Homo sapiens: one gene and its partner. The protein of the gene in region 1 interacts with the protein of each later gene in a pairwise test. Each region holds a gene or a part of one and is shown on either strand. Other genes may lie near its edges.

Region 1 (8,640 bases):
TGGCCTGGAACGCGGTCTTCTCGGCTCCAGTTTCCCGCCCAGGCCCCGCCCACCCGGCCGCCCCGCTGGTTCGCACCGCTGCTCCGGCCACCGAGGAGCCCAAAGTTGGCGGCGTCCCGCGGACTCCGGCGGAGAGCGCGAGGGAGTCGCGGCCGACTCCTGTACCACGAAGACAACTGGAGGCCGGCGGGGGAGGCGGGCCACGAGGGGCTGGGGCGAGGGAGCTGGGATGCGCGGGCCCGGCTCGCCGGGAAACAGGTTGCCGCGGAGTCCCGTCCCCTCCCCCTCTGCGGTCCCCGCCGCGACCTGATTCCCGCCCTGCCCGGGGAGCTAACCCAGCCGCCTCCGGGGCGCCCTCCTTCTTCCTGGATTCCCACGGCTGGACCAGAGCCCCTCTGGCAGCCGGGTTAAAGGCTCCTTCAGCAAGGTCAAGGCGCGGCCGGCTGGCACCTGGGGATTTTTTTCCAGCCGAGCACTGGCTTTTCAATCGCATTGTTAAGGATCATGGCAGCGGCAGGAAATCCGAAGGGCCCCACAGGTCTGCGGGAGGGAGGATTTATTTTACAGCAAGGAACAGATTCAGACAGATCGGGGATTTCAGTGGGAGGGGACGAGAGGTTTCAGGACGCTGGAATGTGGCAAAAACAAAACACTCCCCACCCATGCACATCACCATCTCCTGACTGCGGGCTGGGGGGAAGGGAGTTCAGGGCCAATGTGTCCCAGACTTCAGCGTTCCCCACGGCTGTGTCAGGGCTGGGGTGGCTTATCCCCCTACAGACGAAAATCAAGATTTAAAAGCATACTCTTACTGTGGTTTCTCTATCAAAGCCCATCAACGTGATACACAGGCTGCGGCGCTGGAGGGAAGCGGCGAAACGGGGAGAATAAACGCAACAGAAGCAAACTGCTGTCTGCAGAGGCGAGAGGCGAAGGAACGGAAGCCATACCCGACCCCAGCCCCATCCCGTCCCCATCAGCGCCGGGCTAGCGCAGGAAACCAGGAATAGGTGTAGGTAAGGGTGGCAGCCCGGCAGAGCCAGCGTTCTACTCCCTCTAACCCCTCGCCAGCGTGGGCCTGGATGGCTGGGCTGCCTGGGCATCTCCAAGGGGGACCAGGCACCGCGGGCAGGTTTCTAAACACGTGAAGGGCACAGGGCTTGAAAGACAAGGAGGGGCGCCCAGGAAGGGCGGAAAAGAGGGGCTTTGGGGCTCCCCAGGACACCAAGTCAGTTTCTGAAAACGGCGTTCCCTGGAAGGCCTTCCAACACCTCCGAGGGAAGACTTGGAGCTCTGAAGACCCAATGAAACCTCAGTTCTGACTGACTCCTCCTCTGCGATCAATTCCGGATGCCCCCACTTAGTCCCTGCCTCGGTAACCGGTTCTTTGGGGACAGCAGCATCAGCACCCGACGCCCATCGCACAAGTGGGCGCCGTGGTGCGAGGCGTATCCTAGCTACCCAGGCCGGGGTGGGGGCGCCCCGGTACTTACACTCCCCAAGCAGGCAAACTTTCAGGCTTGTCTTTCGAGAACCGGGAGCTCGCATCACAGTTCCGGGTAATCACCGAGGCAGCTTATGTAATTGCCCGCGATGCCGCTCAGCAGATCTCTCTCCTTACTCGGCCTCAGAGCTCAGTACATGGGCACCCTCTTCCCCCCACCCCCCACCCCGGCGATTGGAATCCCGAGCTTGCCCCACCACCGCCTTCTACAAAGCAGCGGGGTGATCTCGTGTGCTACAAACACCAAGCCAGTATGCAGGTTCAGGCAAAACTCTGGCTGCCTCCCTGCGCCCCTTTCACTGCGTCGATGGTTTACAGATAACTGCATTTCTATAAACCCTCTCTCCACGGTTAGGGGGTGGGAGGGAGTTAGAGATCGGGTGGGGGCTTGGCGCGGTACTGTTGAGGGCTCTGCACCCAACTGAGCAGTAATACACTCATCCACATGGACGCGGGTGCATAAATCGCCTTAACATTTTGCCCTGAAAGCGGAGCCAATTTCCAAAGTTAAGGACCACGCAGCTGAATTTCCAGTACTTTCCAACCTCGCCTAGGCGGGGGCAGGCAGAGAAGGGGCGGGCAGCGGGCAGCTAACTCGCCCGACCCCCCCGCCAAGAAGGACTCACTAGGTGAACCCCCCGCCCTTCACCCAAGTAGTTGGTTGTGTATTCCTCGGTTGCGTGTGTGTGTCCACACACACACACACACACACACACACACGCCGCCCCACTACCTTCCAGTCTGCTCCTCCAATGTAACGACCGCATTTAAAAATGGCAATTAAAATGACTGAGGAGCTCGGTGATCACATTTCAACCCAGAGCACATTTCCCGAAGCTGGGGGTGAGAGTAGTCATACAGTCACACTCACACCCGGGAGCCCTCCAAGCGTCCATCTGGCGGCTGCAGCCTCAGTTGGCTCCTAGACGAACATCAATACCGCGGCCGGGCGCCCGGTGAGGAGAGGCGGGCGCCCCGCGGGTTGCAGAGGGCGAGGAGCTGGGGTCGCATCTCCAGGATCTGAGCTCCAACCACCGCCCGTGCGGGGCTGCTGCAGCCGGCACTTGCCCCGCAGGGCAGGCTGCAGCCGCTGAAGCCCGGCGCCGCCTCGCGGGCTCCTCCAGCGCCCGACGGGGGCCTGGGGCGAGCTAGTCTGCAGAGGGGCTGCAGGCGACCGGGCCGGGGCGGGGAACGGGATCCGGGAGAGGCAGACGAACCTGGGGCGCGCCGCCTCCCTCCCACCCGCTTCCCACCTCCCTGCCCTCCCCCAACCCTTGCTCCCAGGCTCCAGTCCGCGGCGGGCTCCGGGGGCTGCGGCGGCTCCAGGCTCCAGAACAGCTTGCCTCTTCGGCCACCCGCGCCCTAGCCTCCCTCCTCCTGGGCCAGGGGAGCAAGCAAACATCTCCCGGAGCCCTCGGCAGCCGCGTGAGCTACCCGAACCCTGCCCGGGCCAGCAGTGCAGAGGGCGATGGAGCTGGCGAGGCGTCGCCGCGGTCCCCAAGGCGCTTTTCCGTAGAGCGGATCACGCCGCCTTACCGTGGCTGCAGGCTGCTACCGCCGGGGAAGCGGCGAGGACGGCGGCAGGGAGGCAAGGCGCCGCGCCGGTGGCTCCTCTCTCTCTCGGCGGCGCGGCTCCTCTGCTCCGCGAGCCGTAGCGGGGCGCCCAGGAAGGAGCAGGTCCGGGCTCTGCGCTCAGCTCCAGCGAGACCAACAATAGCTCCCGCGGGGAGCGGAGCCCCAGCGAGCCTCCAGCCGCGCGCGCACGACCGGCTCCCGCTCCCGGCCGCTCCCGGCCGGCGTCCCTGCCAGCACTGCTGCCCCACATGAAACAGCTGCAATCCCGAGGCTTCTGGGGGGTTGGGGCGGGTGTGTGCGCGCGCGTGTGTGAGTGTGTGTGTGTGTGTGTGTGTTTAATAGCTTCCCTTCTCTTCTTCCCCTCCCTGCCTGCTCGCCTGCCTGCCTCCGTCCCCCACCCTCGCTCTCTTACACACAGAAAGAGAGGGCGAGCGAGAGAGAGACACACACACACACGCACACGCACACGCAGGTTACATGAATGGGAGGCGGTAGCCAATCCTACGAGGCCGGCGAGCCGCGCGGCGCACTGGCGCTGGGAGCAGGGCCGCACTCCGGCGCGGGGGGGCGCCACGCAGGTGATGGGCGCCTCTCCGGGGGCCACGCGCGGCCGCTCCCTCACCCCAGTCTCGGTTCCTCTGTCTCCTTCCCCCTTCCTCTCCGCCGCCTTCTCCATCTTCTCTCCTTTTACCTCCTTTGCTTTCTCGAGTTCTCCGAGCTCTCTCAGTTCGGTATCTTTCTGGTCTCTTTCTTCTTTTACCCTCCTTGCTTGCTTTCTCTTCCCCTTTCTGAAACTTTCTCTTTTCCTTTCTGGACTTTCTTGTACTTCCTCTCCTCTTGCCTTTTGTTCTTTCCTCCTCCTTTGGCTTTCTCTCCAGGCTCCCCGTAGCACGGTCTCGTCCCCTCTCCCTCCTCTTCGCCTTTCCCTGGGTCTCTCTGGCGCCCAGGGCCTCCCTTCTGCCTGCTCGCTGGATGTTACTCCACACCCCCCACCCCAACACTTTTCTAGGGACGGTCTCTTTCAAGTTGCTACTGCAGCACAATCAGAGTAATTAAGAGCTGAGATCTTGAGTTCCTTCTTCAGGCATGCAAGATGCCCAAAGAAAGGCCCTCCTTCCTCGGACAACTTCCCCAAAACCATGGTAACAGCTACTGAGTCGTGATAACAATCACTTAAAAAATAGCAGTGATTGCGGTCCAAGAGATTTCTGTCCCTCGAATGTTTGGATCGTGATGGCAAGCACATTTCCAAGAGAAGGGCATTTTTATGTGATGAGAGCGGTAGTTTGACTGAGTGGCAACTTGGAAGGGCTTTGGGGAAGAGACTGGAGGAATTCCCACTCCAGCCCTGCTGCCTGCTGGCTAAAGGACTTAGTGCGAGCCATTTCCCCTTACCCGGCTTCAGTTTTCTCATCTATAAAATGGATGATACCGACTTCACCAGTTTTGGTGAGGATTAAAAGAGAGAACAATGGAAAGAAAGCACTGGGTGTATATGAGATGCTTAATTTATGTTAGTTTCCTTCTTTAAGACAACTTCCTTCATGATCTTCTGCTACAGTGTGTCTCTCTGATCTAAAGTAGTCAATGAAGGAGGAAATGTGACAATGCTAATTTCACATAAATGTGAAAGGAGGGGTAGGCTATTTTGAAAACTCTTCTGTGTGGTGAGGAGACTGTCTAGCCAGTTGCCATATGCTGATTATAAAGGCATCACAGATTATAAACGTGGGGTGCTGGAATGCCCCTTCAACATCTCATAACTAGGGCATCTCAGAAAGGCAGGGATGGGTTGGGGTGGGTGGGAAGTTTCCACACAATCTGTCCAATCTATTTTTAAAATCTTTATGATAAGTGTACAGTGACCAGTGACAAAGCCTCTGAGATTAACTAAAATGTCAAGTCTCTGCCTTTGAATAGCATTTATCAACTTTGTGTCCTCACTGCAGACATCAAATGCTGGGCATCAGCTGTGATTGGCAGTTAGATTTAGTCCTTCAACAAATATTTCTTGACCACCTACTTTGTGGCAGGTGCTGTGATAGGTCTCGGCATTCAGTGGTGAGACAAACAGGCCCTGTTTTCTGAGCTTACAGTTCAGTAGGCATGTTTCATGAATGTACACTGAGAAAATGAGACACATGTACCTGAAGGAGTAACATTGGTTTGGTGGACAAATTCTTTCATTACAGAAGATCCAAGACAGGGAGTATAAGAAAGGGATCTTTGAGAGTGATAATTTTGCAAATCACTTTCAGTCTATGCATTTCATTTGACCAGTGAGAAAAATGAGACCCAGATGCTAAAAGTAGTGGGTGAAAGTATGTTGAGAAACAAAAAATATATATAGGTTCAAAGTATCTGCCCACATGATACTGATTAATTTCAAAGGGGAAAATAGTAACTTTTCAATAGAAAACCTGAAAGACTCCACCTTGAGTGATTAAAATCAGTATTAGCAGGAATGTGACAAATAGACATCAAGTGGCCCCTGATATAGTGCACTGGGAAGGACATATCACTTCTGTGATATTCCTGGTAGACATGAATAACCTGAATCTAATCATGAGGGATGCCCAATGGAATTGTTGGGAGTAAGGGAAGACTTCCCATAGGAGATGACAGGTTCTCACTCTGTCATCCAGGCTGGAGTGCAGTGGTGCCATCTTGGTTCACTGAAGCCTCAACCTCCTGAGCTCAGGTGATCCTCCCACCTCAGCCTCTTGAGTAGCTGGGACCACAGGCATGTGCCACCACACCACGCCAAACTAATTTTATTTGTTTGTTTGTTTGTTTTACAGATGAGGTCTCACTATGTTGCCCAGGCTGGTCTCAAATACCATCAATCCTCTGCCCTAGGCTTCCCAGAGTGCTGGGATTATAGGTGTGAGCTACCATACCTGGCCTTGAGCTGAGTTTTGAAGGCAAGGAATTAGCTAGACCGTGAAAGGAGGGGAGATGCTTTTTAGGTACAGGCAATAGTATGATGACATGGACAAAAGCATGAGACACTCATAGCAGAGTTGGACATATTGGGGGAGGGTCTTGGAGGAGTCTAGATGAGTCCCTAGCATCTAGGATTGGATTTTGACAGGGCCTGAAGGAGGCTAAGGATCCAAACATCCTGAAAGTTCAGGTACTGGGGCAGAAGGAGGGTAGACAGTTAATAAAGGCTTTTAAGAAGAGGAAGGATGTGATCTTGAGTGTGTTTTCAAAAGATGATTTGGCAGCAGTGTAGAGAAATGGATTAACTGGGGTGACTTAGGAAGAGTAGAGGCAGGAAAAAGTAGGTCATTTAGGGAAACTAAGGCAGTTGCAATGAAGCCAGAAAAGGGAGGAGAGATTTGAGAGAGATTGAGGATGATTTTGATTTCTGATTGGATGGGGGTAGCAAGGAGAAGCCCAAAGTGACACTCAGTTTTCAAGCTTGGGTATCTCAATAGAAGGTGGTACTACTCATTGCGATGTCAAGAGTATTCAGGAGGAAGTAGAATTCAGGGAGCATTTTAGAGGGGGGAAAAAAGGTCAGTTGCTACCATGTTATAATCTAACTCTATAGCTAACCGGAGATTCTCCTATATGGCTGCTCTGTGCCATAGGAAACACTAGTTGTAAAATTCAGCCTAAGACCTCCAAACAGCCAGCTCTACGTATTGCCCAGAAAAACAGGAGATTGGATATAATGACAGTACATTATTTGTAATAATGGGAAAAAAATTGAAGCAGCCTAAATGGTCAAATAAAATAAGTAAACTGGAGGACAGCCTTTGTTGGAATATTATGCAGCTACTCGAAAGTGTTTTTGCAGTTTTTCGTGCCATAAAAAAGTTAGTATTGTCATATATAATATTTTAAAAGAGAATTCAAAATTGTTAGCTACATAAAAACCCTCTTGCAGAAAAGTCTGAAGAAAAAAATGCCAAATATTAACCGTGTTTTCTTCTGGGTGATGGGGTTATGAGTAATATATATTTTCTTCTTTATACTTTTTCTGGCATTTTATAATCTTCCTACTATAAACATTCATTATTCCATTATAAAAACTTTTTAAAGCTGCCATTAAAAAAACACAAAGACATGGCTATGATCATTCCCCCTCCCCTGACTTTATCCCTTTTCAATCCACCGTTCCCACTCCCCCTGAAGAGTAACTGCGTTTTGAGTTTTATCTCTGAGAGTGAAATAAGGAGGCATTTAACAAATCAGGGGAAATTAGTAGCTGGGCTAGAGAGGGGGAGAGGGCATTCTTATGGAGGCAGATACATTATGAGAGCTGTTGAAACTGTATATATTAAAGATGTTTGCATTGCCCTTATTGATTCTGTGATATGTTACAAGCAAAAGAAAACATATAGTGGGGTCAAGAAAATGTGAGTCTTTAAAGGGCAAGTTTTAATTAGCAAATGTATTTATTTGCAAAAAAAAAATCCTTCCCTTCAGAGTCCAGCTGTTACTATAAAATTGTTTCAGGGAGTAAGTACTTCAAAGCAAGAAGACACTGAGGAGCAAGAGGCAATGCCTCATGCCTGTTGTCTGACACCACATCAAATATGCAAGTTGGTTACTTAGGATTTGGACACCTACTGATAAATGCCATCAAACTTCCATAATTAGAGGGTGAGAAAAGTGCCTGCCAGAGGATAGTCTCAGTCTTTGGAAAAGTTGCTGTAAATAGTTCCCTGGTGAGGTTACATCTGCATCTCTGATTTTCGTCTCACAGAAATATTTACCCTGTGGGTAATTTCCCCAACCTAATAATAATAACACCTTACACAGCATAGCCCTTTCACCTTTTCAAAGGGCCTCCGCATCTGTTGATTGACTCAATCCTTGTACCCACGCCTGCTGGAATCCTACTTCCAGTGTGCACCAAGAGGAAGAGGGACCCAGAGAGGTTCAAACAAAGAGGCAGAGCAGGGGCTAGAACTAAAAGAAGGAATAAGAGACATTCTTGAAGAGCCTTCTGTGTGGCCCTGGAGCTTCCACGGTGTGTTATCACATAGAATTGTGATAACTAGAGGGGGAGAGTGAACACACTGAGGCTTGTGAGGTTCTGGCTCAGCCGAATCAGAATCAGAATCCAGCTCTCCAGAACTCCCAAGCCACTTGCCTTTCCCAGCATAGCCCCATTTTTAAAAGCCAAGAGGTGAGGCTGGTGGTGATTTTCTGTCTGACTGACTCCATTTAATCTGTGAGCTGTCTTTCTGTGAGGTTTGTCTAACCTGTGAGTTGTCTTTCTGTCTTATAGGTATTAGAAGCTAGTGTTTGGGGATTTGGTGATTAACAATGACTTTTGAATTATCTCATAGAAAATAAGGGGAAAGCCTCTGCTTGGGTTCACCATACATATTCCCTAAAAGGGAAATGATTGGAGCTTGTCCTCCATTTCACCCCTCATCCTGAAATGTTTAGCAAAGTACTGGCACTTACAGGTTCTTAGTAAATATTCCTTCACTGAGTGAAGAAATGAATGCTAATAACAACAATAGCTAGCATGCATTGAGCATTTTGCCAGGGGATGAGCAAAAGGCATTATCTTATTTAAATTGTAATGCTATACT
Region 2 (7,829 bases), on another chromosome or scaffold:
GAGAATCACTTGAATCCTGAAGGCAGAGTTTGCAGTGAGCTGAGATCGCATCACTGCACTCCAGCCTAGGTGACAAAGGGAGACTGTCTCAAAAAAATTAAAAAGGTGGCCAGAGAAGGCCTGCCTGGGAAGGGAACATATCAGCAAAGAACAGAAGGAACGGAGAGAGGGATCCCCAGGGACAGCTGAGGGAAGGGCCTTCCAGGCAGAGGGAACAGCCAGTGCAAAGGCCCTGAGACAGGCCTGTCCTGGGGAGTAATTTCAAGGATGCTGGTGTGCCCAGGGGTGCGGAATATGATGCGTCATGGGTGTACACAGGGACCCTCTGGCTGCATGAGGGAAATGATCTTCAGGGCCAGGAGGGGAGCAGGGAGACCCAAAGTGCATAGGACAGGGCCTGGCCCGTGGCAGACTTGTAACAGTCATAACTGGAAGTTGGGAAGAGGGTGGAGGAGGTGGTCTAAGAAGGCAAGGTGGGCTGGGTACAGCAACTCACACCTGTAATCCCAGCACTCTGAGAGGCCGAGGTGGTAGGATTGCTTGAGCCCGGGAGTTTGAGACCAGCCTCGGCAACATAGTGAGACCCCATCTCTACAAAAAAAAAAAAAAAAAAAAAAAAAAGCCAGGCATAGTGGCATGCACCTGTAGTCCCAGCTACTAGGGAGGCTGAGGCAGGAGAATCAGTTGACCCAGGAGGTTGAGGCTGCAGTGAGCCACCATCGTGGCCACTGTACTCCAGCCTGGGGGACAGGGTGAGAACACAAGACCCTGTCTCAAGAAAAAAAATGTCAGGCACGGTGTCTCACACCTGTAATCCCAGCACTTTGGGAAGCCGAGGCAGGTGGATCACCTGAGGTCAGGAGTTTGAGATCAGCCTGGCCAACATGGTGAAACCCTGTCTCTACTAAAAATACAAAAATTAGCCGGACGTGGTGGTGCACGCCTGTAATCCCAGCTACTTGGGAGGCTGAGGCAGGAGAATCACTGGAATCCAGGAGGCGGAGGTTGCAGTGAGCTGAGATCGCGGCACTCCAACTCCAGCCTGGGCAACAGAGCAAGACTCCATCTCAAAAAAAAAAAAAAAAAAAAAAAGAAGGAAAGGCTGTGAGCGAAGGTGTGGTGGTGGGAATCTGCCCCCCTCAGAACTCAGGTCCTCTCCACGCTGTGGCCCACAGTGCCAAGGTTGCCCCTCAGAGCTGGTGCTGAGGTCCGGGCCAGGGAGGCCGAGGACAGGGCGGCAGGGAGAGGGCTTCCTGGAGGAGGCCCCCAGGCCCCGGGAGGTGGCACCAGGGGAATGAGCCCTTTGTGTCCCGCCAGGTTCTTCGTGAACTTTGTGGTTGGGCAGGATCCGGGCTCAGACGTCGCCTTCCACTTCAATCCGCGGTTTGACGGCTGGGACAAGGTGGTCTTCAACACGTTGCAGGGCGGGAAGTGGGGCAGCGAGGAGAGGAAGAGGAGCATGCCCTTCAAAAAGGGTGCCGCCTTTGAGCTGGTCTTCATAGTCCTGGCTGAGCACTACAAGGTCTGCATGCTTTCTCTCTTGTTTCCCAAGCTGGAGTGCAGTGGCGCCATCTTGGCTGCTTCCTTCCTTCCCGCCTTCCTTCCTTTTCTTTCTTTCTTTCTTTTTTTTTTTTTTTTTTTTGAGATGGAGTTTCACTCTGTTGCCCAGGCTGGAGTGCAGTGGCATGATCTCAGCTTACTGCAACCTCTGCCTGCTGGGTTCAAGAGCTTCTCCTGCCTCAGCCTCCCGAGTAGCTGGGATTATAGGCGCGTGCCACCACGCTCAGCTAATTTCTGTATTTTGAGTAGAGATGGGGTTTCACCATGTTGCCCAGGCTGGCCTCGAACTCCCGACCTCAGGTGTTCTGCCCTCCTTGGCCTCCCAAAGTGCTGGAATTACAGGCGTGAGCCACCACACCCAGCCCCTTCCTTCTTTTTCCTCTTTTTCCTTCCTCTTTCTCTGTTCTCTCCTCTTTCCTCCCCTCCTTCCTTCCCCCTTCCCTCCTCTCTTCTTCCTTCTCTCTCCTTCCCTCCTTCATTTATTTCCTTTTTCCATCCCCACTTTTTATGTCAACTTCTTTCTTTTCTTTTCCTTCTTTCCTGCCTATTTTATTTTATTTTATTATTTATTTATTTATTTATTTTTATTTATTGATCATTCTTGGGTGTTTCTCAGAGAGGGGGATGTGGCAGGGTCATAGGATAATAGTGGAGAGAAGGTCAGCAGATAAACACGTGAACAAAGGTCTCTGGTTTTCCTAGGCAGAGGGCCCTGCGGCCTTCCACAGTGTTTGTGTCCCTGGGTACTTGAGATTAGGGAGTGGTGATGACTCTTAAGGAGCATGCTGCCTTCAAGCCTCTGTTTAACAAAGCACATCCTGCACAGCCCTTAATCCATTTAACCCTGAGTTGACACACCACATGTCTCAGGGAACACAGGGTAAGGTTACAGATTAACAGCAACTCAAGGCAGAAGAATTTTTCTTAGTACAGAACAAAATGGAGTCTTCTATGTCTACTTCTTTCTACACAGACACAGTAACAATCTGATCTCTCTTTCTTTTCCCCACATTTCCCCCTTTTCTTTTCGACAAAACCGCCATCGTCATCATGGCCCATTCTTGATGGTCGCTGTCTCTTCGGAGCTGTTGGGTACACTTCCCAGACAGGGCGGCCTGGCAGAGGCGCTCCTCACTTCCCAGACGGGGCGGCCGGGCAGAGGCGCTCCTCACCTCCCAGACGAAGGGCGGCCGTTTCCTGCCTATTTTTAAAAATCCTCTTTTAGCGCTTTTCCTTAGTCCCATTACCCTACTGCTGAGAGTCTTGTAATACATTTCATGTGTATTTCCTCCTACCACTTTGTGTTTTTTGCAAAACGTGTACTTTTTGTTTTCCTCTTGAGACTGGGTCTCGCTCTGTTGCCCAGGCTGGAGTGCAGTGATGCAAACAGCTCACTACAGCCTCAACCTCCCCGGGCTCAGGTGATCCTCTCACATTAGCCTCCGGAGTAGCTGGGACTCTAGGTGCACACCACCACGCCCGGCTAATTTTTGTATATTTTTGTAAAGACGGGGTCTTGCTATGTTTCTCAAGCTGGTCTCGAACTCTTGATCTCAAATGATCCCCCACCTTGGCTTCCTAAAGTGCTGGGATTACAGGCATGAGCCACTGCGCCCGGCCAGTGAGCTGATTTTTGACCTTAGCTTGACCTCTGAGCTGTGGACTCCAAGGTTCCTGATGCTGAGGCTGTCCCAGCTCATCCCCAAGACTATCGACTCCCAATGAAAAAGATCCCTGATCCTTGCTTTTTTTTTTTTTTGAGACAGAGTCTTGCTCTGTCACCCAAGCTGGAGTGCAGCAGCGTGATCTCCACTCACTGCAACCTCCACCTCCCGGGTTCAGGCGATTCTCCTGCCTCAGCCTCCTGAGTATCTGGGATTACAGGAGCCCGCCACCATGCCTGGCTAATTTTTGTATTTTTAGTAGAGATGGGGTTTCACTATGTTGGCCAGACTGGTCTCACACTCCTGATCTCAAATGATCCACCCCCCTCAGCCTCCCAAAGTGCTGGGATTAGAGGCGTGAGCCAGGGTGCCCTGCCCTTGCTTCCTGTTTGTACCTTCCCAGGATCATGGGTGCTGACTCCTGACCTCCCATCTCTGCCCTCCAGGTGGTGGTAAATGGAAATCCCTTCTATGAGTACGGGCACCGGCTTCCCCTACAGATGGTCACCCACCTGCAAGTGGATGGGGATCTGCAACTTCAATCAATCAACTTCATCGGAGGCCAGCCCCTCCGGCCCCAGGTGTGAGGGGTCCCATCCCTTCTTGCGTCCTTTCTTTCTAAATTCAGTTCCACATTCATTTTTTTTCTTTTTTTCTTTTTTTCTTTTTTTTTTGAGACGGAGTCTCACTCTGTCGCCCAGGTTGGAGTGCAGTGGCGCGATCTTGGCTCACTGCAAGCTCCGCCTCCCAGGTTCACGCCATTCTCCTGCCTCAGCCTCCCAAATAGCTGGGACTACAGGAGCCTGCCACCACGCCCGGCTAATTTTTTTGTATTTTTAGTAGAGACAGGGTTTCACTGTGTTAGCCAAGATGGTCTCGATCTCCTTACCTCATGATCCACCCACCTCGACTTCCCAAAGTGCTGGGATTACAGGCGTGAGCCACCGCAGTTGGTCTATTTTTTCTTTTTGAGATGGAGTCTTGCTCTGTCTCCCAGGCTGGAGTACAGTGGTGTGATTCTGGCTCACTGCAACCTCTGCCTCCCAGTTTTAAGCAATTCTCCTGCCTCAGCCTCCCAAGTAGCTGGGATTACAGGCACCCACCATCACATCTGGCTAATTTTTGTATTTTTAGTAGAGACGGGGTTTCACCATGTTGGCCAGGCTGGTCTGGAACTCCTGGCCTCAAGTGATCTGCTGGCTACAGTCTCCCAGAGTGCTGGGATTACAGGTGTGAGCCATGGTGCCCAGCGCATTCCACATTCATTTATTTCCCAAGCATCTCCCTCTGCTGAGTTATGCCAAGAGCCCAGTGATGATCAAGGGATCCCACTGGGAAGACAGACCCATCACTGCAAGGGATAAAGGCCGGGATGGGGAGGCCCTGGCTGAAGGGTTGCAGTTGGGTTTGGGCCCAGACAGAGGGATCAGGGCCAGGACAGGAGGGTGGGTGGAGGCAGGCAGAGGGGTCAGGCCCAGGGCTGGAGACAGGAATGACTGAGATATCTCTGGGCCCTGACCTCACTGGGCTCACAGACATGGCATCAGAGAGTGACAGCCCAGAAATGGTCAGGTCTGTGATAGGGAGGGCACAGGCAGAGGGGCAGGGGCTGGGATATGGAGTATACAGGAGGTTTGGGAGCCTACAGGAAGGGCTTGACTAGTCATGGGTCAGGAAGGAAGTGCTTCCTGGAGTAGGAGGAAGTGTGTAAGGTGAGTCAGAAAGTGAGGATAAGGAAAGGCAAAGAACACACGATAGTGAATGAATTCCCTAGAGGTTGCTTAACACAATCATTAAAAATAAATAACATACAATTAAATTGAGTTTATCAATATTATTATTATTATTATTATTATTATTATTATTATTATTATTTTTGAGGCAGGGTCTGGCTCTGTCACCCAGGCTGGAGTGTGGTGGTGCAATCACAGCCTACTGTATTCTTGACTTCCTGGGTTCAAGTGATCCTCCCACCTCAGTCTCCTGAGTAGCTGGGACTACAGGCACGCACCACCAGCCCCAGCTAGTTTTTAAATTTTTTGTAAAGACAGAGGGGAGGAATTTTCCTATGTTGTCCAGGCTGGTCTTGAACTCCTGACCTCAGGTGATCCACCCACCTCAGCCTCCCAAAGTCCTGAGATTACAGGCGTGAGCCACAGCCCCCGGCTTATAAAGCTACGTTTATTTGTTTGTTTGTTTTTTGTTTTTTGTTTTTTTTTTAGATGGAGTCTTGCTCTGTGGCCCAGGTTGGAGTGCAGTGGCATGATCTCAGCTCACTGCACCCTCTGCCTCCCAGGTTTAAGGAATTCTTCCTCAGCCTCCCAAGTAGCTGTGATTACAGGCACCTGCCACCACGCCCGGCTATATAAAGCTACTTTTAAAAGGCCTTCAGAATAGCTGGCTGAGAATAGAAGTCAAGGCAGAATGGAGTTAATTACAAGGAGGAGAAAAGAGAAGGTAACAGAGAGAAAGAGAGAGAGTAAAAGTTAAAGGTGTTAGACTTGGGAGGGTGAGGCGAGCGGATCACCTGAGGTCGGGAGTTTGAGACCAGCCTGACCAACATGGAGAAACCCCATCTCTATTAAAAATACAAAATTAGCTGGGCGTGGTGGCGCATGCTTGTAATCCCAGCTACACCGGAGGCTGAGGCAGGAGAATCACTTGAACCCAGGAGGCAGAGGTTGAGGTGAGCAGAGATCGTGCCACTGCACGGCACCCTGGGCAACAAGAGCGAAATTCCATCTCAAATAAATAAATAAAAGTGTTTGGCAGAAGGAAGCCCCTGCGCTGAGGTGTGGCCAAGACAGAGAGAGAGGCAGAGACACAGGGACAGAGGCAGAAACTGAGATCAAGATCAGCGAGTGAGGGCCCCGGGACAGCAGGAAGACAGCAAGGGGAAGGGCACAGAGAACAAAATGGACCAAGCATTGTCCTAAAGCTTTGGGGTGACTCACTGGGCATCAGCGATCCCAGAACATGGGGTGCCCCTCTCCGTGAATCTGTGATCGGGGTGCCACCCTTTGATGCCAGAGTTCTCTGGCATAGTGGTGGTGGTGGTGGGCCACCCCAGGGCAGGCACTCTCGACATCTTTCAGTCGCAAATCTGGGGACCCTCTCATAACCGCTTTCTCTTTCTGTGCCCACAGGGACCCCCGATGATGCCACCTTACCCTGTAAGTACTTGCTGATAGGTGAGGGTCTTCCTCCCTAGTGGGGTCCCTCAGCCCCTCTCACCCTTCCTGCCTTCTGTCCATCGTTCAGGGTCCCGGACATTGCCATCAACAGCTGAACAGCCTGCCCGTGAGTGGGAGGGCTGGGAGGGCCCCGGGTGAGGAGTGGGAATGGTGAGAATTGGGGTAGGGGGAGCTAAGAGGGGTTGCAGCCCAAGGTGTACTAACCCAGCACCTAGAGAAACGCCGGAGTCTAATGGGTGTGTCATAGATATCTGTCGACTCTTGGAGAATAATATCGCTTCTTCCTCACTTCACAGACCATGGAAGGACCCCCAACCTTCAACCCGGTATGGCTTGGGGAAACAGAGATGGATGGTGGGGAGGGGGCACGGATCTCCAGGGAATCTGAGACAGCCAGAAAGGGAGTGGGCTGAGGGTTTTGGGGTGGGAGGTAGGGGAAGGGTAGATAGAGTTCGTGGTCAGGTTTAGGGAGCAGAAGGAATTGGGGATGTTTTCCAGGAGGAGTGGGACCTCTCAGAAAATTTGTTCTTGGGCTGGACATGGTGGCTCACGCCTGTAATCCCAGCACTTTGGGATGCCAAGGCGGACAGATCACGAGGTCAGGAGATCGATCGAGACCATCCTGGCCAGCATAGTGAAACTCTGTCTCTACTAAAAATACAAAAATTAGCTGGGCATGGTGGCGCGCGCCTGTAATCCCAGCTACTCAGGAAGCTGAGGCAGGAGAATCGCTTGAACCAGGGAGTCGGAGGTTGCAGTGAGCCGGGATCGTGCCACAGTACTCCAACCTGGTGACAGAACGAGACTCCATCTCAAAAAAAAAAAAAAAAAAAAAAAAAGAAAAAGAAAAGAAAAAGAAAATTTATTCTTGGCCAGACACGGTGGCTCATGCCTATAATCCCAGCCCTTTGGGAGGCCAAGGCAGGTGGATCACTTGAGGTCAAGAGTTCCAGATCAGCCTGGTCAACATGATGAATCCCCGTCTCTACTAAAATGACAAAAGTTAGCCAGGTGTGGTGGCGCACACCTGTAATCCCAGCTACTAGGAAGGCTGAGGCAGCAGAATTGCTTGAACCTAGGAGGCAGAGGTTGCAGTGAGCTGAGATTATGCCACTACACTCCAGCCTGGGCGTCAGAGGGAGACTCTGCCTAAAAAAAAAAACAAAATTTGTTCCTTTGTTCCTGCAAGGCTGGGCGTGGTGGCTCACGCCTGTAATCCCAGCACTTCGGGAGGCTGAGATGGGAGGATTGCTTGAGCCCAGCAGTTTGAGGCTGCAGTGAGGCTTGATCATGCCACTGCACTCCAGCCTGGGTGACAGAGTAAGACCCCATCTCTTATAAGAAAAAAAGACAGGAAAGAAAAGAAAAGAAAAAGAAAATTTCTTCCCACATCTGGCTCTGCTAAGCTGAG

The links. Proteins that work in one complex are often made in the same cells at the same time.
Region 2: the proteins of TENM4 (region 1) and LGALS4 interact in binary tests that used the Homo sapiens proteins (3 or more experiments, as listed by UniProt).

What each region holds. Positions count from the first base shown.
Region 1 is NC_000011.10:79,437,469-79,446,108, forward strand, and holds the start of TENM4 (teneurin-4), read right to left. Parts: upstream 3,563-8,640; 5' UTR 3,041-3,562; intron 1-3,040. UniProt on the Homo sapiens protein: Involved in neural development, regulating the establishment of proper connectivity within the nervous system. Plays a role in the establishment of the anterior-posterior axis during gastrulation.
Region 2 is NC_000019.10:38,802,437-38,810,265, reverse strand, and holds part of LGALS4 (galectin-4), read left to right. Parts: intron 1-1,317; coding exon 1,318-1,522; intron 1,523-3,670; coding exon 3,671-3,805; intron 3,806-6,370; coding exon 6,371-6,397; intron 6,398-6,485; coding exon 6,486-6,524; intron 6,525-6,714; coding exon 6,715-6,744; intron 6,745-7,829. UniProt on the Homo sapiens protein: Galectin that binds lactose and a related range of sugars. May be involved in the assembly of adherens junctions.